Linked DNA regions of Homo sapiens: region 1 is linked to region 2. Evidence: fine-mapped expression QTL. A gene starts in region 2. The other region holds a variant in brackets. All regions are shown on one strand. Distances are between the middles of the regions. Region 1 overlaps GPLD1 (glycosylphosphatidylinositol specific phospholipase D1). Region 2 holds the start of MRS2 (magnesium transporter MRS2).

Region 1 (11,857 bases), 56 kb after region 2:
TTGATCTCTTGACCTCAGGATCTGCCCGCCTTGGCCTCCCAAAGTGCTGGGATTATAGGCATGAGCCACCGCGCCCGGCCAGGTTCTCCAATTCTTTCACAACTTACATAACAACGAATGGCCTTTCACACAGTGGTGCTTGCCACATAACACACATGCTGAAGGACCCACGTCCATTATTTATTAGGTAATCTCTCCACACCCGTGTGCAGTGGCATCTATAAGTGCTGCCCCTTTCTGTAAGGCAGAAACTTGATAAACAAGATAAGGTTGCCTGGGGACACAAAACACGCTAGGGCAGGGTGGGAACCAATAACTCAGGGCTCTGCCAGCTGAGGACTGGTTCATTTTATCACTATCAGCTGCACCATCCGGCCCTCCTACGGGCCAGCCAGTCATTCCGAGAGGAGCACAGAACTTTAAAGCAGGCCAGGCCTTGAGTTTCCTATCATAAACCTTCATTGTATCAATGAGGACACAGAGATGCTCACTGCAGTCAGGGCCTGAGGGCAGGATTTCCATCCTTCGTCCATGCCTTTATCTTGCCATCTTTGAAATGATCAAAGGTCACTAGGGGAGGAGGGCATGGAGCCACTTCCTTTCTCACCCAAGTGGTCTTTGAGAGAGTTTAGCAGCCACAGGAAGCAGGTGCCTCTCTTTATTCCCTGTCTATATGTGCCCAAAGGTTTACACTTTACACAACAGTCTGTCGGGGAAAGGCTTTGTAGAGAAGTAAGAAGCAACAAGATTAGATAAATTTATTTTGGAAATTTTTCATGTGGTGTCAGAAGGCCCTGAAAAATGCTGTCCCTCTGGGACTGTGACCTTACACACTGACCAGTCACCTTATTTGTACATGTTGGATTCAGAGCTCCTTTCATCAGAGCCTAAACTAGATCATAAATCATTGTACTTCTTATTTTTGAAAGCGTGTTCATGGCTGGGCGTGGTGGCTCACACCTACAATCCCGGCACTTTGGGAGGCTGAGGCGGACGGACCACCTGAGGTCAAGAGTTCAAGACCAGCCTTACCAATATGGTGAAACCCCGTCTCTACTAAAAATACAAAAATTAGCCGGGCATGGCGGTGCATGCCTGTAGTCCTAGCTACTTGTGACCTTGAGATGGGAGAATAACTTAAACCCAGAAGGCAGAGGTTGCAGTGAGCCAAGATCATGCCACTGCACTCCAGTCTGGGCAACAGTGAGAGTTTATCTCAAAAAAAAAAAAAAAGCAAGCACGTTCAGGTGTGCCATCTTATTTTCTCTTCACAGGATTCACTTCACAGCGAAAGGGTAAGTGCCTTGCCTGGAACAAGAACCACGACGATCTGACTGGAAGTCTAGGGTTCTCCCCCTAGCACTTGACACTCAGAGAATGCAGTGCCAGGCCAGTATCACCAAAAGCCCCACACTCATTGGTGACTAGTAGCAGAGCTCTGTCTACCCCACCCCCCCACGCTCCTCCTTATTGCTGTTACAAAAACTAAAGCCTCTGATGTTAGAAAAACTTTCCAGGACCCTAGCGCTCTCGGGAGGAATTAATGCTTGGACTCCACGAGGAACGTTTGTAGTCACTGCGGGTTTTTTCAGGTGATGAATAACCACTTAGGACAAAAGAAGGAAATCTAAAGAAAGCCTGGCGTTTAGTTAATAGTGATGTACAGTGTTGTTTTTATTCTTAATTTTTGACAAGTATACCATAATTATGTAAGATGTTAACATAGGGGAAAATGAGTAAACAGTACATGGGAACTCTTTGTACTGTCTTTATACCTTTTCTGTGAATCTAAAATTCTGGACGGATGCAGTGGCTCACGCCTGTAATCCCAGCACTTTGGGAGGCCAAGGTGGGTGGATCACCTAAGGTCAGGAGTTTGAGACCAGACTGGCCAACATGGCAAAACTGCATCTCTACTAAAAATAAAAAAATTAGCCGGGCCTGGTGGTGTGCACCTGTAGTACCAGCTACTCAGGAGGCTGAGGCAGGAGAATTGCTTGAACCCGGGAGGCAGAGGTTGCAGTGAGCAGAGATTGCACCACTGCACTCCAGCCTGGGTGACAGAGCAAGAGACTCCATCTCAAATAAATAAATTAATTAATTAAAATAAAATACTTACAAAGTTTTATAAATACATACATTTCGTGTGTGTGTGTGTGTGTGTGTGTATAAAGAGGTTTTATATTATCAATTATATTATCAAGAAATCACATCCCAACTGGCCACTCAAAGCAGTTCTCAATAGCATGTGTGTTTTTGGAAGGTATTAGACTAATGATAGAATAAAATAAATGATGTAAACATGCTTCTAAAACTAAAAAGTGCTTCACAAATGTACACCACCAGCTGTTTGTTACTGTAATTATTCTTGTTATTAGTTACTCATCCTGGAGAATCTGCCACAAAATGCAAGAGTAGCTACTAACCACTAGAAGAGAAAGGATGAGATGGTGTCTCACCTGGAAGCCTTCAAGGATCCTGTGGGCCTCCTTGTCCAGGTCCAGGTCAACAGGTGGCAGGCCCAGGTCATTGCCGTAGATGAGGTACACGCGCCCGATGTGGATGTGGCCGGGGCGGCTGTAGCCTGGTGCGCCCACCACGAGGTCACCGTGCCCATCCTGGTTGAGGTCAGCTGAGGTCATTGCCCTTAGGGAAGTGAAGGGACCCACCATGGTATGCACTGAGCACTAGGGTTAAAGCTGTCGCCTGCTTCTTTCCTTTCTAGAGCCCAGTCCATTAACTTTCTCTCACTGACTTTTCCACCCTGCGTGACTGTTGTGAATATTCACTTCTCAGGTTGTATTGTTAGTGTGATTCAGTCTCATTCTTCAAGGGGAAAAATAAAATAAAAATGGACAAATCAAGGCCTCTAAGCATTTCTGGACTACATAACCTGAGAGGATGAAAAGTATACTCATGAAGCTTCTTGTCTTATACACAAAACCAGGGCTTGCCTGAGAGTAGAGAGGAAATTCATGTCCAGCCAAGCCCCTCTAGCCAATGGCGCAGGCCACTTTCTGATCTGCTCAATTCGTTTCAATGTGTTATCTGATCAAAGACGAGCTTGTGTGAAATAGACTATGTTTTTACCACAGCCACAAAGGCACCTGGCAGTGGGCCAAATCAAGAGTCCCACATGTTTAGTAGAGGCTCCTAGATGAGATTCCAAGAGCCACCAGTTACAGAGCTGGATAAACCGAGTCAAAGGTTCAAGTGTCACTACAGGGGCTGGAAAGACCAAAAGTCATTTGTTTATTCTAGTGCTTATCATCACATAAAGAACAAATGGCAGGCCGAGCATGGTGGCTCACGCCTGTAATCCCAGCACTTTGGGAGGCCAAGGCAGGTGGATCACCTGAGATCAGGAGTTCGATACCAGCCTGGCCAAGACAGTGAAATGCTGTCTCTACTAAAAATACAAAAATTAGCTGGGTATGGTGGCAGGCGCCTGTAATCCCAGCTACTTTGGAGGCTGAGGCAGGAGAATCACTTGAACCCGGGAGGCAGAGAACCCAGTGAGCCGAAATCAGAACAAACGGCAGAACAAAGGAAAAAGTCAAGAGCAGTTGTTTAAGGCTGTGATACCTGGTGGGAGGGACAGACACTCCAGTGGACCCATTGCTGTTCTCTGCACTTTGGAGGCTCAATGCTGGCCAGTAATGGCCCTAGGGATGCCCCTGTGGCTGGCTGTGCTTATGTAGCTGCCAGCCCAGCAGGAGGCCTTTCGGATCTTTCAGGGAGGTAGCCATACACACAAGTGAACGACCAGTAAAGACAGCATTCACCTCCCCATCTCCTGCACTAGAGCTGAATGCACAGAAGCCCTGAAAGGAAGGACTGTCAGGAAATTGTGCCAAGGAAATGCAATGCCCTTTGGAATTAAGGAGTATGATTTTTTTAAAAAGCCTTCATCCAAACTTCCAGAAAATAGTCACTTTTATATACTTGGGGTTAGTTTTGTATGTTGTTGTTGTTTTGTTTTATTTTTTTATTTATTTTGGGGGCTTAGTTTTGGTTGAATTTTAAAATCAGAGGAATTCCTAACATTCTCTTTATAAAACTGTCATGGTATACCAGCTTTTACCATATGAAGTTACAATATTTAAATCACTATAACAGCTATCTGCTTATATCCTTCTGATGTGACTAGATTACAAAAGAAATCTGTAAGAATTTATCTCCAAGAACATCAGAGCTTTACAAAAATTCCATGAAACAATCCTTTATTGTTGTGATTATTTAGTAAACCGAAAGTTCCTTGTATTTAAACATATTTGACCAAGTGTAAGGAGATCATTTCATTGTTACAATAACTTAACCATTAAATTAATGCTTTTGGCCAGGTGCAGTGGCTCATGCTTGTAATCCCAGCACTTTGGGGGGCTGAGGCAGGTGGATCGCTTGAGCCCAGGAGTTTGAGACCAGCCTGGGCAACATAGCAAGACCCCATCTCTAGTACAGAAAAAAAAATTTTTTTAATCAAATAAATTAATGCTTTTGTTGATGATGAATTCATTGACAAGCAAGGTGCTAACAAGCACCATTTAAAACAGTTGCAGAGGGCTGGGCACAGTGGCTCACACCTGCAATCCCAGGACTTTGGGAGGCCAAGGCGGGAAGATCACTTGAGCCCAGAAGTTCGAGATCAGCCTGGTCAACATGGTGAAACCTTGTCTCTACTAAAAATATAAAAATTAGCCAGGCATGGTGGCGCGCACCTGTAACCCCAGCTACTGGGAAGCTGAGGCAGAGAATCACTTGAACCTGGGAGGCAGAGGTTGCAGTGAGCCAAGATCAAGCCACTGTACTCCAGCCTGGGTGACAAGTGAGACTCTGTCTCAAAAATAAAATAAAATAAAATGAAATAAAAAACAGTTGCAGAATGATTGAATAAAATTAATACTGAAGAAAACATTCACAAGTTAGATAAACTTATACGTACCAGCCAAGCCTCGCATAAGGAAATGACAAGAAGTAAGATGCTAAGGGGCTGGAGACGTGCTTTTGTGACAACTGAGAGCCACCTATGAACATTGTCCTTATGTTCCTTTCCAAAGCCTTGTAGATAAAGGACATGGAATCCTGAAATAAAAGAATCATTATAGACAGTAAAGACACGTAGCATAATCAACAAAGCTACTGTTTCCTGTCCAAAGTATTGGACTTGTGTAAAGGAAATGAGTTTTTAGAAGTGCTAAACAATAAAATAAAACATTAGGTCCTATCAGCAAGTAAGATCACTTAGGACAGGCAATTAGGATAGTGAAATCATACCCCCAAATTATGCTGAGGGATGGCAGAGTTACAGCCCAAGAGGTTGGGACCAGCATGGGTAGAAAGAGTTATCGCTCTGTCACCAGGCTGGAGTGCAGTGGCACGATCTCAACTCACTGCAACCTCCGCCCCCTGGGTTCAAGCAATTCTCCTGCCTTAGCCTCCCTAGTAGCTGGGATTACAGGTGCTCGCCACCACACCCAGCTAATTTTTGTATTTTAGTAGAGATGGGGTCTCACCATGTTGGCCAGGCTGGTCTCGAATTCCTGACCTTAAGCAATCTACCTGCCTCGGCTCCCC[C/T]AAAGTGCTGGGATTACAGGCGTAAGCCACCATGCCCAGGGGACTAAAATTTTTTAAAAGACAAGTCTGTCCATGTGCAGTGGCTCACACCTGTAATCCTAGCACTTTAGGAGGCTGAGACAGGAGGATCACTTGAACCCAGGAGTTTGAGACCAGCCTGGGCAACATGGAGAAACCCCATCTCAACAAAAAATACAAAAAATTAGCCGAGTGTGGTGGAGCGTGCCTGTAATCCCTGCTACTTGGGAGGCTGAAATGGGAGGATCACCTGCATCCAAGAGGTTGAGGCTGCAATGAGCTGAGATCTCACCATTGCACTCCAGCCTGAGCAACAGAATGAGACTCTGTCTCAACAACAAGAAAAAGAACAAGTCCTTTCAATGCAGAACTTTAATTGTATTTGTATATGTGTATATATATTAACAAACAAATAAACTGGAACAACAGGATGCCAAAGATATCCTCCAGACCGGCCAGGCGTGGTGGCTCACGCCTATAATCCTAGCACTTTGGGAGGTCAAGGTGGGAGGATCACAAGGTCAGGAGTTCGAGACCAGCCTGGCCAATATAGTAAAACCCCGTCTCTACTAAAAATTAGCTGGGAGTGGTGGCGGGCACCTGTAGTCCCAGCTACTTGGGAGGCTGAGGCAGGAAAATCGCTTGAACCTGGGAGATGGAGGTTGCAGTGAGCTGAGATCGTGCCGCTGCACGCTAGCCTGGGTGACAGAGCAAGACTCCATCTCAAAAAAAAAAAACGATATCCTCCAAACCACACCCAAGCTGAGATGTGGTTGTATTTGCTGCCAGGCAGGCACGAGAGGTCACATGCAGAATGCTAGGAGCCGTACACCACAGAATTTGGGGGACAACAAGCCCCTCAGCTTGGGATGCTGAATCGTTCTTAATGTGGTTACTGCAGAGACAAAAAACACAAACGAGAGTGGCCCTGAACAAGCTGGCCAGATACTAGATCCATCCAAGTTAAGGGGACACAACTCTAAATCTGCCCAAGGGTGACATGAGACCAAACAAGATTTCCTAGGTCTGCTCCAAAGCAGAGCACAGTTGGCTCAGAGCATGAAGGCAGCCCAGATGGCTCAGGCGCTGCAAAAGCACAGGGTCTGAGGATCTTTCAGGCACGAGTATGCCTTCTGCTTTGCCCATTCTAATCTCACTGGCAGGCCATGCATAGATTGCTTCATCCTAAAGCCTAGCTCTGACTTGCTCATTCATCCAGGAAGCAATTAATCAGCTCCTACTATATGCCAGGTACCACAGCAGACACTGGGAACATAAAGTCCCTCCTTAGACAATTCATTTTTTTGCAAAGGAGAAAATCCAAATATGGCAAGACAAAATGACATGTGCTTTGATAGAGGTTCCCCTCCCCGGTCCGGACCAGCTACATAATTTAAGGAGGCCAGGGCAAAATTAAAACATGCAGCCTTTTGTTAAAAAAATTGTTAAAGCCGGGTGTGGTGGCTCACGCCTGTAATCCCAGCACTTTGGGAGGCCCAGGTGGGCGGATTACCTAAGGTCAGGAGTTCAAGACCAGCCTGGCCAACATGGTGAAACCCCATCTCTACTAAAAATACAAAAAGTAGCTGGGCATGGTGGCGGGTGCCTGTAATCCCAGCTACTCAGGAGGCTGAGGCAGGGAATTGCTTGAACCCGGGAGGCAGAGGTTACAGTGAGCTGAGGTGGTACCACTGCACTCTAGCTCAGGTGACAGAGCAAGACTCTGTCTCAAAAAAAAAAAAATTGTTAAGAATTTTAAGGCAGTGACAGCAGTATATTAAACCTAAACTAGGCCCTTCCGCAATTCTCAGAGACCCCATTCACAAAGTTGTCTAAACCCTTCTGACATTAAGAGCCCACTACAATCCAATGCCTACTTAGCTTCCTAAGCCTCTCATAGTAACTCATATTCCTTGTCCTGTGCTCCAGGCAAATACGACTACTCAGATTTCCCAACACCTGAAACTTTCCCAACCCACTAACAGAAATGTACTCTCACTGATGAAATACTATCTACTGTCCAAGACCTAACTTGAATGTCCCCTCCTCCAGGAAGCCTTCTCTGTCTGATAGCCTCCAAGGTGAAGCTTTTCTCCCTGCTATTTTTTTTTTGTTTTGTTTTTTGAGACAGGGTGTCACTCTAGCACCCAGGCTGGAGTGCAGTGGTGCAACCTCAGCTCACTGCAACCTCTGCCTTCCAGGAACAAGTAGTCCTCCCACCTCAGCCTCCCGAATAGCTGGGACTACAAGTGCACACTACCATGCCCAGCTGATTTTTTGTTACTTTTTTGTAGAGACAGGGTCTCATTATGTTACCCAGGCTAGTCTCAAACTCCTGAGCTCAAGCAATCCACCTGCCTCAGCCACTTAAAGTGCTGGGATTACAGGCGTGAGCCACCACGCCCATTCTCCCTACTATCTAATGATGCACTTACCGCACCATGGTATGTGTTGCAGTCTACTCACATAATGGTTATTTTTGTATTTGTCACTCCTTTCAGACTGAAATTTTTTAAGGGTCAGAGTTCATTTGTCTTTCATTTTATATCCCCCAGTAGAGTGTCTTCACTTAACAGCTAACTTCATTGATTAATTTCATACACAATGGGGCTATGCACAGTGAGCCTTCAACATTGTGAACGCCTTTGGGACTAAGTCCAAAGAAGGATTGGCCTGGGTGCCCAGGGTCATCTTGACTTGACAGAGACCACTGAGGTGCAGACTCAGGGCATCTCCAGAACAAACCACATATGGATGCCAAGAGTATTTGCCGGCCTGGCACATGCTTAGACCCAGGCTGGAGTGCACTGGCATGATCATAGCTCACTGTAGCCTTGAACTCCTGGGCTCAAGCAATCCTCCTGCCTTAGCCTCCCAAGTAGCTGTGACAACAGGCACAGCCATCACACCCAGCTAATTTATTTATTTTTTATAGAGACAAGGTCTTGCTATGTTGCCCAGACAGGTCTCAAACTCCTGGACTCAAGGGATCCTCTCAACTCAGCCTCCCAGCCACCACATCCCACCACAGGTAAATTTCAATGGACAAATAAATACCCAGGGACTCAGCGAAACAAGGTATCTCAAGAAGCAGCATTCCTCTTTCTCAACTTAGAGCAGAAAATTCTTACCGGGGTCCAGGAATTTACACTAAAGAACACTCCTCTTTCAGTATAGTTTATATTCCTGTCAACACTTTCAGTTAGGGATGTAGTCAAATTTCTGTGAAAATCATTTTTCTGCATTTTTGAGCTGTTGAAGAGAAAGAGGAATAAACTGGTTACGACTGAGAAAACAACCCCCTGTAAAACTGAGTTGAAGAATATAGTCAAGTTAATCACAGGTTAAAAGACCACAAAATTTTAACGTCAGAAGGCTGAAGGAGCAACACAGAAAGTTTTAGAAAACCTTCATTTCACAAAATCTTTTAGTAAACACATTTCTAAGGCTTAAAAGCCTATCCTTATAAAACATATTTCCTATAATATCAGAGCTCTATGGTAGGAGTAAAAGGCTTCAATTCTTTCCAGATTATGAAAAAATTTAGCAACAGGTATCAGCTGGTGGGGAAACTGCTTTGCAAGCATACTGATTTTTTTTTTTTTTTTTTGAGACGGAGTCTTGCTCTGTCACCTAGGCTGCAGTGCAGTGGCACGATCTCGGCTCATTGCAACCTTCGCCTCCTGGGTTCAAGCAATTCTCCTGTCTCAGCCTCCTGAGTAGCCTGGAACTACAGGCATGCACCACCACACCCAGCTGATTTTTTTGTATTTTTAGTAGAGATGGAGTTTCACTATGTTGGCCAGGCTGGGCTCGAACTCCTGAGCTCAGGTGATCCACCTGCCTCGGTCTCCCAAAGTGCTGGAATTACAGGTGTGAGCCATCACGCCCAGCCAGCATACTGATTTATCTTCAAAGACATGCTAAAATTAATTATACAATAAAAATACATTTTCACATTCAAAGATGTCAACCAGCCAAAAAGCAGATGACTCAGGGAGCCAGAGAGGCTTCAGAAATGACTGAAGTAGGGAGTGGACAACAGCCGTAAGTGACGGGGCCCTGGGCATGACACCAACTAGTGTCAGGGTTCTGGCAACCCCAAGAAAGATTGCAAGCCTAATCAAAAGGTGCTCAATGTGATTAAACAACAACAAAGTATGTTGAAGGAATGGTTTGCTAGGAAAAAAAGAAAAAGAAAAAAAAAAGTTACCCAATTCAAATACAACAATGACGACTTCACTGAACACTTTCTGTGTAATTTTCATTCTTCCAAAGTGCTAAGATCATTCCTCTCAGTACCTTTATCATTGCAATACTCTACTTTTGAGTATATCTCACTCTTGATCATCCTTAAATATCCCGGTTAAGCCATCACTTCTTCAAGGAGAGCTCTTTTGTGCCCAGGGCCAGGACGCTCTGTTGCAAATCCCCAGAACACCCTGCATTTTTAATTCCTGACACTTAAATATCTGTTAAGCCATCACTTCTTCAAGGAGAACCCTCCTGTGCCCAGGCCAGGACGCTTGCAAATCCCCAGAGCACCTTGCATTTTTTCTTCCTAACACTTAACAATGTCCACAATTACTTGTTTAGTGCCCAGCTACCTGCCAGGCCATATACCTGAGAGCAGGAACTGTTTCTGTCTTGTTCACAATGATATCTCTAGTGCCTGAACCAGTTCCTGGCACGTACTGATTAATAAATGATATTTTATTATTTGTGTTATTTTGTTCTATTTTATTAATAAATATACACATATTTGTAATATTAATAACTTATTAAATGAATGCATAAATGACTGTCGGTTGGTACCTGACTCCAGCAGAAAATATCATTTCTTAAAATACAAACCAGGCTTCTGGCCCTTAACATTGAGGGCTTCTCCCAACACTGTCTCATCAATAAATAAATTTTCATGTAAAATCTGGGTGAAGTTTATGAGTAAGACAATAATATTGATAGTTACAATAATACTAACTACATTTCTTCTTTCTTTTTTTGAGACAGGATCTCACTCTGTTGCCTAGACTGGAGTGTACTGGCCTGATCTCAGCTCACTGCAGCCTCGAACTCCTAGGCTCAAGCAATCCTCCCGCCTCAGCCTCCCAAGTAGCTGGGACTACAGGCACACACCACCATACCTGGCTAATTTTGTTCATTTTTTGTAGATATAGGGGTCTCACTATGTTGCTGAGGCTGGTCCTGAACTCCTGGACTTAAGGGATCCTCCTGCCTCAGCCTCCCAGAGTGCTAGGATTACACGTATGAGCCACTGTGCCCAGCCACTAACTACCGTTTAATGAGCAACTCAACATGTGCTAATTGCTTTACATCCACCACTGCATGTCATCCACACCATAATTCTGGGAGTGTTGATGTGCTTTTTCCATTTTGCAAAAGGAGGAAGCTATAGCTCCAAAAATCAAGCAGCTTGTTTAAAAATCACACAGCTGCAAGTGACAAATCTGGAATTTGAACCTACAGCTGTCTCTCAACAGATCCCGTGTTCTCAACCTCTATAGGGCATCTCCTCCAGGTGAGATGTACTTTTTCTATGAACAATTTTGGAATCCACTTACCCCTGGGTGTGGTTTTGCTGGCCGCCACATGCAATGAACAGAGGGTTCTCAGGCAGGTTGCAGTCACTGAGGAAACAGTCAAATGAGTTAGCCATTTATCTACTTCTTCACAAGCATGAATTTTACCGAGAATCGGTAGTGCGCTTCAATCATCTCCCAAAGGCTTAAAGTGTTTATTACCTAGCCATACAGGACTAATTAAGAGCCCATGTTCTCCCAGAGAGGGTGGGTAGGCTGACGGTTGTCACTATCATGGTAATCCAGGAAGGCTCATGCTGCCAGTCACCCCAGACTCAGCCTTCCTCTTCCCTCCCCGCTCCACCTGCTGAGCTGTTCCACGCTAACACGAAACGTCTCAGAATTTGAGAGTGTTATCAACACTGGTTACCAATTATGTCACCTTCTGCCCAATTATACACATTTATGCCTAAATGTGTCTGAATTTCTCAATTTCATTTCTTTAAAAAAAATTCCATAATTTCAATAATTAAATAGCTAATGAAGGATCCCCTTTTACAAGTGAAAAAGCCTCTGAGAACATAAGAGATAAACTCTTCCCAATAGAGGCTTTCCCCCAACACTGAACAGAAGCACTGAGGAAGCAGGTATTAATATAAGAAGAGTATTCTGGAATGAAGACTATCTTAAGATTTGTATGGAGGTCACTGAGGGAGGCTGGGGTA
Region 2 (11,857 bases):
CTCCCGGGTTCAAGCAATTCTCCTGCCTCAGCCTCCCAAGTAGCTGGGATTACAGGCATGCACCACCATACCCAGCTAATTTTGTATTTTTAGTACAGACGGGATTTCACCATGTTGCCCAGGCTGGTCTCGAACTCTAGACCTCAGGTGATACACCCACCTCGGCCTCCCAAAGTGCTGGGATTACAGGCATGAGCCACCGTGCCCAGCTGGGGCAGATTTTAAAGTGGACTCTCCTTGTGCACAGGTTCACATTGTAAGGAGGTTCTCCAGAGGACTTCTCTTCCGCCCCCACCCCAGGCCCATCTGGTTGCCATTCCCTTGATAAGGGCGGTGCCACTTCGGATCACTTTGAGCTCTGCCCCTTCTTGCCTCTAAGGCCAGATTCCTCACTCCCTGATATGCTGCTCTTTGGGGAAGGATTCTTTTTAAAACAATCCCAGGCTGATATTCTTGTCACATCTGCACTTCAGGCTTTATGTACCTTTAGAGAAAACACAGTTACTTTCCTGATGCAAAGCGTCTATTGCTTGCTCAGGTGTGAGTCTATAAACTCTTCAAGCTCCTAGAGTGGGTCTTAAGAAGCTCCTCTCACTGGGCTTGAAGTTAGTGGGCAAGCACCTCCCTCTACACCTTCTTCCTGATAGTGGAGAGTGGGGAAGTGGGGATCAAGAAAGATAGCTTTTTAGCTCAATGTGCCATGAAGCCAAGAAGGTAAGGAAAGAGATTAAGAAATGTTGAGGCTAGATTGTTATTATATAGATGCAGGCGTCTTCTGGGATTCTGCTATGGCTTGGGATAAAAGGGAAGACAGTGATCCAGGTGTGATACCCTGATGGGTTCTTCCTGCCTGCTGCACAGCCATAATCAATTCACTGAGACTGAGGCATTGCAGTAAAACAAGAGTTTAATTGATGCAAGGTCAGCCACACCAGAGATGAGGTTATTACTTGACCCAGTCTCCCTGAAGGCTCAGAGTCTAGGGTTTTTATGGACAATTTGGTGGGCAGGGGGCTAAGGAACAGGTGCTGCTGATTGGTTGGGGATGAAATCACAGGGGCTGGAAAATGGTCCTCATGCACTGAGTTCTCCTCTAGGTGGAACCACAGGACAGGCTGAGTCATAAGTCATGAATTTGAGTGGGGTCAGTCTGAAAAACATCTCAAAGGGCCAATCTTAGGTTCTACAGTGATGATGTTATCTATAGGAGCAATTGAGAAAGCACAAATCTTGTGATCTCTGGCCACACGACTCCTGAACAGTAAGGGATTATAGAACATATGCCCACATTTTAGCAGAACTCAGACTCCTTCCATAATCCTAATCTTGGGCCTTTCACTAGTCTCATGAAGGTGGTTTCAGCCCCGAAACAAGCAGGAAGGGGGTAGTTTTAGGGTAGGACTATTATCCTTGCTTCAAAGTTAAGCTATAAACCAAATTCCTCCATGGTTAGTTTGGCCTATACCTAAGAACAACCAAGGACAGCTTGGAGGTCAGAAGCAAGATGGAGTCAACTACATCAGATATCTCTTACTGTGATAATCTTTGCAAAGTGGTTTCACAGGTCCCTTTTCCTGTTACTCTATTAAAGCTGCTCCTATGAAGATCACCAATAAGTTCCATAGTGTCATGTCCAATATAGACAATTCTCATTTCTTATTTTACCCATCAGAAAATTTTGACATAACTTATCACTTCTTCATTCATGCAACAGTAGGGACCAAGAGAAACTTCCCCTTCAGCCACTGAAAGTTTGCTAAAAAAATCAACCCACAAAAGGCAGATTGATTGGAGACAAGGCAAATTGTATAAATGTGTACACAGGGAGAATCACAGGGTGATTACACAACCTCCAACAGGGTTAAGAAGCTTATATACCACCCTGGCAAAATAGGCTATGGGAGGGAGTAGAAGAGGAATTCTATTGAGGGGATTACTAGGGAGAATGAATGGATCAGGGAACAGAGATGAACATGAACATTACCCTGTCAAAGGGTGTGTTCAAGCATGGTTACATTCTTGGTTTTTCAGGGAGGAGAAGAGACAGTTGTTTCTTTTAATGGGTCTGGATCTTAGGTTAAAAAAAAACGTTAACTTCATCTTTGGAAGACTCAGTTGGCAGGGGGTGGTGCCAGCGAGACCTTGAGGCTTCTTCAGTTTAACATGTCAAAACATATTTTGGGGTAGCAGTTTCTGAACCCCAACTAAATAACTTTCTTTACTTGGCTTCTAGGATTCCACCCTCTGATTCTATTTCTTTCTTTGTCACTCCTCATACTCTTCTGCTGGATCTATCTCATCTTCTTAACAATTCAATATGAGAGGATCTAGAGCTCAATTGTATGATGACTTTTTCTCTGACTCACTTCTTGGGAGACTTTTTTTTTTTTTTGAGATGGAGTTTTGCTTTCCCCCAGGCTGGAGTGAAGTGGGGCAATCTTGGCCCACTGCAACCTCTGCCCCCCGGGTTCAAGCGATTCTCCTGCCTCAGCCTCCCGAGTAGCCAGGATTATAGGCGCCTGCCACCATACCCCAATAATTTTTATATTTTTAGTAGAGACGGGGTTTCGCCACGTTAGCCAGGCTGGTTTCAAACTCCAGACCTCAGGTGATCCACCAGCCTCGGACTCCCAAAGTGCTAGGATTACAGGGGTGAACCACTGTGCTCGGCCTTCTTGGGAGATCTCTTCCAATCTTGTGGCTTTAAATATTCTATACAGTCTCAAATGTAACTATCTATCTCCAACACCTTCCCTGAATTCCAGGCTGCTTACTTGACATCTACACTCAGATATCTGTCTAGGACATCTCTCGAAGTTAACATTCAAAACCAAATGCCATGCCATAGTTTTTGTTGTTCTTGTTTTTGTTGTTGTTCTTGTTGTTGTTGTTGAGACGGGAGTTTCACTCTTGTTGCCCAGGCTGGAGTGCAATAGTGCGATCTTGGCTCACCGCACCCTCCACCTCCGGGTTCAAGTGATTCTCCTGCCTCGGCCCCCTCAGTAGCTGGGATTACAGACATGCACCGCCACAGCCAGCTAATTTCGTATTTTTAGTAGAGATGGGGTTTCTCCACGTTGGTCAGGCTGGTCTCGATCTCCCAACCTCAGGTGATCCGCACACCTTGGCTTCCCAAAGTGCTGGGATTACAGGTTTGAGCCACAGTTTTCAATTAAAAACTTCTCCTTTCTGGCCAGGCATGGTGGCTCACGCCTGTAATCCCAGCACTTTGGGAGGCCAATGCGGGTGGATCACAAGGTCAGGAGATCGAGACCATCCTGGCTAACACGGTGAAACCCCATCTCTGCTAAAAATACAAAAAATTAGCTGGGCGTGGTGTCAGGCGCCTGTAGTCCCAGCTACTTGGGAGGCTGAGGCAGGAGAATGGCGTGAACCCGGGAGGCGGAGCTTGCAGTGAGCAGAGATCACACCACTGCACTCCAGTCTGGGCGACAGAGCGAGACTTCGTCACAAAAAACAAAACAAACAAAAAAAAAACTGCTCCTTTCCAAAATTCCCTATCTCAGTAAATAGCACCAGCAAGGCCCTGCTGTTCGGGATACACATTTTGGAGCAACATCTATGCCTCTCTTTCTCTTATATCCCATCTGCAAATGTTGTCAACTCAGCCTTCAATATATGGTACCAAGCCCAACTCATCTTCCCCTCTCCACCATCCCCACCTTAGCCCAAACCATCATCACCATCTCTCTGCTTCCAATTGCCTCTCTGTAGTCTCTTTCCCACACAGCAAGAGTGACCCATTTAAACATAAATCAGATTGTTACCTCTGCTCATTACCTCTCTGCTCGAAGTCCTCCAATGGTTCCCACCCTTCTCAGAAAAATCTTTGCCACGAATTACGAGGCTGTACGTCTGGACAGGTTCCAGAGTTTTCCTTAGACTTTGCAAAAGTTATCTTAGAGCTGTCTCATTGTGCTGGGTGCAAATTTTGTTTTAAAGAGAAAGTTATCACATATTTTCTCAAAGAAGCATCTCTGAAGGCATGTAATATGTTTGAAATACTTATCTCATCATTAAAGCTTTAGTAAAATGAAAAATCTACCAGCCATGTTCTCTATACTCAGCGATTTTCCAGACTTCAACGCCCTGGAAGCAATGATTAAAGTTTTTCTTTGCCTTCAATTATCTGAAGGGTTGGGCTGCCCCTCCACACCTGTGGGCATTTCTCATCAGGTAGAATGAGAGACTTGGAAAAGAAAGAGACACACAGACAAAGTATAGAGAAAGAAAAATGGGCCCGGGGGACTGGCGCTCAGCATACAGAGGACCCGCGCCGGCACCGGCCTCTGAGTTCCCCTAGTATTTATTGATCATTATCAGGTGTTTCCTGGAGAGGGGGATGTGGCAGGACAATAGGATGATAGTGGAGAGAAGGTCAGCAGGTAAACACGTGAACAAATGTCTCTGCATCATAAACAAGGTAAAGAAAAAAGTGCTGTGCTTTTGATGTGCATATACATAAACATCTCAATGCCTTAAAGAGCAGTATTGCTGCCAGCATGTCCCACCTCCAGCCCTACGGCGGTTTTCCCCTATCTCAGTAGATGGAATATACAATCGGGCTTTACACTGAGACATTCCATTGCCCAGGGACAAGCAGGAGACAGATGCCTTACTCTTATCTCAAATGCAAAGAGGCGTTCCTTCCTCTTTCACTAATCCTCCTCAGCACAGACCCTTTACGGGTGTCGGGCTGGGGGACGGTCAGGTCTTTCCCCTCCCACGAGGCCATATTTCAGACTATCACATGGGGAGAAACCTTGGACAATACCTGGCTTTCCCAGGCAGAGGTCCCTGCGACCTTCTGCAGTGTTTTGTGTCTCTGGGTACTTGAGATTAGGGAGTGGTGATGACTCTTAACAAGCATGCTGCCTTCGAGCATTTGTTTAACAAAGCACATCCTGCACAGCCCTTAATCATTTAACTCTGAGGTGACATAGCACATGTTTCAGGGAGCACAGGGTTGGGGGTAGGGTTACAGATTAACAGCATCTCAAGGCAGAAGAATTGTTCTTAGTACAGAACAAAATGGAGTCTCTTATGTCTACTTCTTTCTACACAGACACAGTAACAATCTGATCTCTCTTTCTTTTCCCCACATTATCAAGTCAAACATCCTCTCTTCTGTGAAGGCTTCTCTTTGTGCACTGCCCTCCTACTCCATCCCCAGTCCCAGTACCCTGCAGAATAAAATGTTTCTATCTCTGTCTCCTTAGCTTTGTGTCCATACATAGATATTGAAAGGAAGTCTGTGGAACTTGTGTCTGCCTTGTATTACTACTGTGGAAGGGACAATAAATTTATTAACTCATATTTTTAAAATATGCATACATACTGTATTTAACCTAAGACTTTTTTCATATTTTAAAGACTGGAATTGAGATATGTCTTTCAATCTACATGTTTAGAAAGCATAACTTATCAGTTTTTTTTTCTTTCTTGGTGGTACATAAAATAATGGTACCTTAAAATTGATGCTATCTTACATTTTATTAAATATGGAATAGAAATCTTATGTGTCTGTGCTCCTCATTCTTTATAGCAAAAGTTTAATACATGACATCATTCCATATGACAGTTGATTATTTTTGCCACTACTGGGGCTCAAACCATAATACCCCAAAATATGATGTTTTGGCATGCTGAGTCTTTGGGGTTTGTTTGTTTTGAGATGGGAGTCTCACTCTGTCGTACAGGCTGGAATGCAGTACAGGCTGGAATGCAATGGCATGATCTGGGCTCGCTGCAACCTCCACCTCCTGGATTCCAGCAATTCTTATGCCTCAGCCTTACAAGTAGCTGGGATTACAGGCACCTGCAACCACACCCGGCTAATTTTTGTATTTTTAGTAGAGACGGGTTTTGCCATGTTGGCCAGGCTGGTCCTGAACTCCTAACCTCAAGTGGTCCACAACATTGGCCTCCCAAAGTGCTTGGCTCCCAAAGTGCTGGATTACAGGCATGAGGCACCACGCCCGGTGGCATGTTGAGTCTTTGAATTAAAGGAAATTAAAAGGGTCTCAGAAAGAAGCCTAAAAATCAAGGCCTCTCTCTCTCACCTTCCCCCTTCCTTTTGTCTCTCTGATACTCTTACTTTTTCCAAGCACCTGAAGGGGCTCTCTTTTCCTGCACAGCCAGATAAGGAATTTCCTTATCTGACAGAGAAAACTCTTTTCCAAAGAAATGCAATTGTCTTAAAACCCGTTCCTTAGGAATCGCATTAAATAATCAGAAGAGATTAATCACCCAGAGAAGAGACAAAAACTGAAAGTCATAGCCACACTGAGACTTTTCATAGATACTTCTGAGGGTAGCTCCAAGAGATTACCTGGGAAACTTTACCTGTATAATAGGACAATTTTTGTTCAGAGTGAAGTTTCACAGCTTGTCCACAAGCGATTGTTTGTACTTCTGTCCCACTGAATGTCCAAGGAGAATCATTTGCAAACCACTGTCTGGCTTTCGGGCCCATTCATACCTATCTCCCTCTACTCAACAAAGAAGGGTATACAAGCATCTGGACCTTAATTGAGTTATTGAGTAATCACTCTTCTGTGATTTTTCCCTATGCACGTTAAGCAAATTTTGTATGCCTTTTTCTCCTGCTAATCTGTCTACTTAGTTCATTCCAGCAACTTTCAGAGGGCAAAAGTAGGAGCTTTCCCTCTTGCTCCCTACACCACGTTAAATTTAAATATAAATTAAATGATGTGGGAATGGGTAACCTGCTCATTTCCAAACTGCAATTTTCATAGGTATGAAAATTCTCCACAAACTACAAAACCATGACACTCCAAGCGCCCAAGAACCTAGGTTGGACAGCTCACTTAGTGCAGGTAAACGTGCTCCACCCATCTCCCAGCCCGCCTGCCCCCTCACTTAGGTACAGGTGCAGGTACAGGTAGGCAAGCAAACGTCTATTGGCTGTGGACTTAACAGGCTCGCCCACAGGTACCTTCCGAGCATGCGTGGGGAAGTAGCACGCAGGCGCGGCACGCCCCGCGCATGCCTGGTGCACAGAGTCTGCAGGTCGGGCGGTAGCGACAGGTCAGAGCTGCGGCCTGAGCAGCCAGCGTCCGGCATGAAGGTCTGGGGTCTGGCTGCTGCCTGCTTCTTGCTCCAGCACCATGGAATGCCTGCGCAGTTTACCCTGCCTCCTGCCCCGCGCGATGAGACTTCCCCGGCGGACGCTGTGTGCCCTGGCCTTGGACGTGACCTCTGTGGGTCCTCCCGTTGCTGCCTGCGGCCGCCGAGCCAACCTGATTGGAAGGAGCCGAGCGGCGCAGCTTTGCGGGCCCGACCGGCTCCGCGTGGCAGGTACTGCCCTTCCCCGGCAACAGCCTTGGGACGCTGGTCTTGCAGTGACCTTAGACTGCTGCCCCAGCCGTCCGGCGCGGCGCGCCTGTTGCTCCGCGCCCTCCGCAGGCCTCGGCCTCCCGCGTGTCCTGTGAGCTTGCACAGGCCCGCGGGCCGAGCTGCGTCCCACTCGCTCAGAATGCGACCTTGCTATGTGCGCTGTGCCCTGCCGGGGTCCCAGCGGCCAACCCTCTGCCTTCTCCTCCACCGCCCTTGCTGCAGATTATGTAACCATAGGAACAACCTAGGAATCGTTTACAGACCGTGATCACGTTAGTTAACACCCGCTTAAGTGCTCTTGTAAGAGGTTTTTTCTGTGTTGTTTTTGAGACAGGGTCTTACTATGTTGCCCAGGCTGGACTCAAACTCCTTGCCTCGAGCCATCCTAACGCATTAGCCTCGCAAAGCGCTGGGATTACAGGCGTGAGCCACCACACCTGGCCGAGAGGTGTTTTTAAACAAGGATTTCATCTGTTCGGAAGTCATAAGTATAAATTAATACTTCCCTGTTTTCTGTTTCTTCGTTATGGACACATTTATACAGTTGTCCAGTTGCACGGAGATTGGGGACGCACCTAGAAGTGAGGCTAAAGACTGAGTTGTTTCTGAGAACGACTTACTTTCAACTACAGTACTCTATAAGTAAACAGCCAGGGAGATCGGATTGAGAAAAAAAAATCTTATTTGCTGTTTATTTTTTCACCAAATGTTGAAGCATGGTGAAAAGTTAAGATTTTCACAAATGTGAGTGCAAATATTTGAGGAATAAAAGGTATTGAAATGAATGACTTTATTAAGAACATAGCAGTGTCCTCAAATATGTTTTCTCAATTGTGCTCTCAAAAGCCTCCCAAAGTAACTCCTCGTCAGCACCTCATTCTCCACTTATTGGAGAGGCTAAGTTGGGTTACATGCTCTGCACCCTCAATTGATAATGCTTGGGAATCCAGTTTCAGCAAGTTGGAGGAAACTTTTAGGACAAGCATTGACGTTCACAATCTCAATCCCGGTTACACTCTAATTTGTGACATTAAAACATTGAAAGGCATTTGTAATCAGCAAATGCCTTTTACCTTTATTCATCTTACCCTTATAGTGATAATTTGTATTTTGTAAAAGGGAAATGAAACTTCAGATACTAACAAATTACAACAATCATTACGTGTATGTAGTAGAAAAAAGATCAGAAATAGGTTTTTTTTTCTACAGTCTCTGGAATCAGTGTAATTACTTTGGAAGCACAAAACAGTGTCCTCTGTCAGTCATTAAATGTACTTGATTATACTTCACCGCTCACTTCGACTCAGTCTAATCACGTTTTAAATAGACAATTTTAAAATAAAGATTTGTCATTTCAGCTCAGTGGGGGTATTTCATAAGTATTCACTATAAAGGATATCTGTAGAAAAGAAGTAAAATCATAGGTTTCATAATTTATGAGCCAGTCAACTGGAATGCTTGAAAGATCAGGTGGTACTTAGGACCTATGTTTTCTAAAATGTATCTACTACCAAATGTGCATGAAGAGTCTTTTAAATTATGCGAAAAGGAAGACCAGACATTTTCTTAAATCTCAGAACACGATGTTGCACATTTGTTCATCCAACTCTGAGATATCAGTAATAATTAGAAAGGTAAAAGGGTGATTGGAATCCATCAGTTATTTTAATGCCTCACCTAAGCCATTAGTTTTAAAAATCATTCCCTGCCAAACCTAAGATAGTCACTAACAGATGTTAAAATTAAGAAGAGTATTTCTTCTTTTCTTATAGGAAAAATATTTAAAAATAATAAAATAGTCTGAAGGCCTCCACATACTTTGAGAGTTGTATTTTAGCTCTATGTGAAAACCAATCATGTGACCACAGGAATTCTCTTAATTTATTCTTCAGGTGAAGTGCACCGGTTTAGAACCTCTGACGTCTCTCAAGCCACTTTAGCCAGTGTAGCCCCAGTATTTACTGTGGTGAGTATGTACAGTACATTGGAAATCGTACAGAAAGTGCTTCCCATACATAAGTTAACTCGTTGGACTGTTGGCCAAGATACTACTTATTTTGAGCTTTATAATCATCATAGCTACATGTCGTGGCTGTTGTGCCTGGCCAGTGACCTAAGTGCCTGCTAGATTTGCTTAACAATGATCTTGAACCTTTGCTAATGACTGCAGCTCCCCTTTTAATACTAGAACAGGTCAATCACAATTCAGAGCCATAAAGAGGCTTGAACCTATGTTCTGCAAGATAATACGCAGGCAGAAGCATTTTGAAGGCAGCAGAGAGTAGTATTTAAAAATGCATGCTTTGAAAGGTCATGATCTCTAACTTTTCTCTGAAATGGTTCGGGGGTGGGGATGAGGGGGGAAATGAATGAATAAGATAATGTATCACACGTATTTTTAGAGAAAGAAGGCTGTTGGGGCAAAATGTTAACAAAGGTGACTCTAGGTGAAAGCTCTATGGGAATTGGTTGTAATATTCTTGCAACTTCTTTGTAGGCTTTTTTTTTTTTTCCAAAAAAAAAAAAAGTCTTGATAAAAAGGTGTGCCGGCCGGGCGTGGTGGCTCACGCCTGTAATTCCAACACTTTGGGAGGCCGAGGTGGGCAGATCATGAGGTCAGGAGATTGAGACCATCCTGGCTAACACAGTGAAACCCCATCTCTACTAAAAATACAAAAAATTAGCCAGGCCTGGTGGTGGGCGCCTGTAGTCCCAGCTACTTGGGAGGCTGAGGCAGGAGAATGGCATGAACCCAGGAGGCGGAGCTTGCAGTGAGCCTGGATCATGCCACTGCACTCCAGCCTGGCAGACAGAGTGAGACTCCATCTCAAAAAAAAAAAAAAAAAGGTGTGCCTATTCTGAGCCAGACTTCCTAAATTCCAATCTCACTCTGCCTCTTATTGACTAGGTGGCCTTGGACAAGTTACAATAACATCTTTGTGCCTTAGTTTTCTCATCTGAAAACTGAGCATAACCTACCATATAGAATTGTTATGAGGATTAAATTAACTCATATATAGAAAGCCCTTAAACTAGTGCCTCACATATAGTAAGCCTCAAATATATTTCATTAGGATTATTTAGGCTTGTTAACATAAGAGCTTTTCTTTATAAACTATATAAAATTAAATAACCCCCAGAATTGCGTTTAAAAGTTACCACTGTTATTCATTGTTCTGGAAGAGTTGGCCAATTTAGTTAAGAATACAAAATCAGGGCCAGGCACGGTGGCTCACGCCTGTAATCCCAACACTTTGGGAGGCTGAGGTGGGCATATCATTTGAGGTCAGGAGTTTTAGACCAGCCTGACCAACATGGTGAAACCCCGTCTCTACTAAAAAACAAAAAAATTAGCCAGGCGTGGTGGTGCACGCCTGTAGTCCCAGCTACTCAGGAGGCTGAGGCAGGAGAATCGCTTGAACCTGGGAGGTGGAGGTTGCAGTGAGCCAAGATTGCACCACTGCACTCCAGCCTGGGCAACAGAGCAAGACTCTGTCTCAAAAAAAGAATACAAAGTCAAACGTGAAATACTGAAAGTTAGTTCTTTGCAGGTGAAATAATTGCAAAGAACACTTAAGAAATTCATAAAGCTATGGAATCTGAGAAAGAAAAATTTAATTTGTGCTGTTTGAAATAGTTTAGAAAGTGAGCTGGTTACAAAGTAAATATTTTTTTCTTTATAATTTGTATGATTTAAAAAATTTTTTTAAGTTCCATTAAAGAAAAAAAGGGTACATATAAATATTGAGATGCAAAAATATTCAGCATATGTTGCTAATTTGGAAGGAGGGAGACTGCAAAGCAGTATGTATAAGTATGTTTTATTAGGAAAATGTTTGGAAGGATATTCAGTGAAATATTGACATGGTTTTCTCTAAAATTTGTCATTTCAGGTGATTAATATAGTTTTATGTTACGTATATTTATTTTCAAATTTTCTGCAGTGGGTTTATGTATTTGTGAAATATAAGGCTGAAAGCTAGACTATTACACAAATATAAAGCTTTCTTTGATATAAATTTTCCTTTAATGTTCTATGGAACTTATATATTCATATTAATTTTATTTTTGCTGATGAGAAGCAAGATAAAATATATATATTGTGAGTTTTTATTGTGTGATTAACACAGCATGTATATTTCCATGGTAGTAACCCAAGACCTATATTGTACTTAAACCTGTATGTTGGAGTGTCTTTCTGAAATGTGTCTGTCGTAGTAAGTAGTACAGCTCAGCACATAGTGATTCATTAAATGTTTCACAGCTTCAAACTTGACTGTGGATAAACATCACTGAAAGATAGTCCCCTACTTTGCAGGAAATAGGTGCATTTTCTGTATCAAATCCTCTCTTCAAACTATCAGAAGGGGTTCTGTAAATCTTTATTGATTCTGCAACACCCACCAAAGAGACTTTGGCCTCATGTAGACATTTAGATTCACAAGGCGGGCCATACTTGGTCCCAGTCTACTCAGAA

What was found. PIP is the estimated chance that this variant, and not a neighbour inherited with it, causes the effect.
Region 1: its variant is fine-mapped to the expression of MRS2 in whole blood (TOPMed, PIP 0.94).

What each region holds. Positions count from the first base shown.
Region 1 is chr6:24,451,556-24,463,412 of GRCh38, forward strand. GPLD1 (glycosylphosphatidylinositol specific phospholipase D1) reads right to left here. Exons shown (of 25, transcript NM_001503.4): 11 at 11,175-11,240; 12 at 8,724-8,844; 13 at 4,943-5,082; 14 at 2,460-2,646. Among named protein-coding and RNA genes, the nearest start is that of GPLD1, 32 kb to the right of the region's middle. RefSeq lists a silencer at 11,317-11,517. The variant C/T (reference allele first, on the strand shown) is at 5,575.
Region 2 is chr6:24,395,896-24,407,752 of GRCh38, forward strand. It overlaps MRS2 (magnesium transporter MRS2), which reads left to right and starts at 7,041. Exons shown (of 11, transcript NM_020662.4): 1 at 7,041-7,341; 2 at 9,273-9,346. The coding sequence starts at 7,152. RefSeq lists enhancers at 3,998-4,733, 4,734-5,469, 7,678-8,412 and silencers at 4,446-4,740, 5,626-5,920.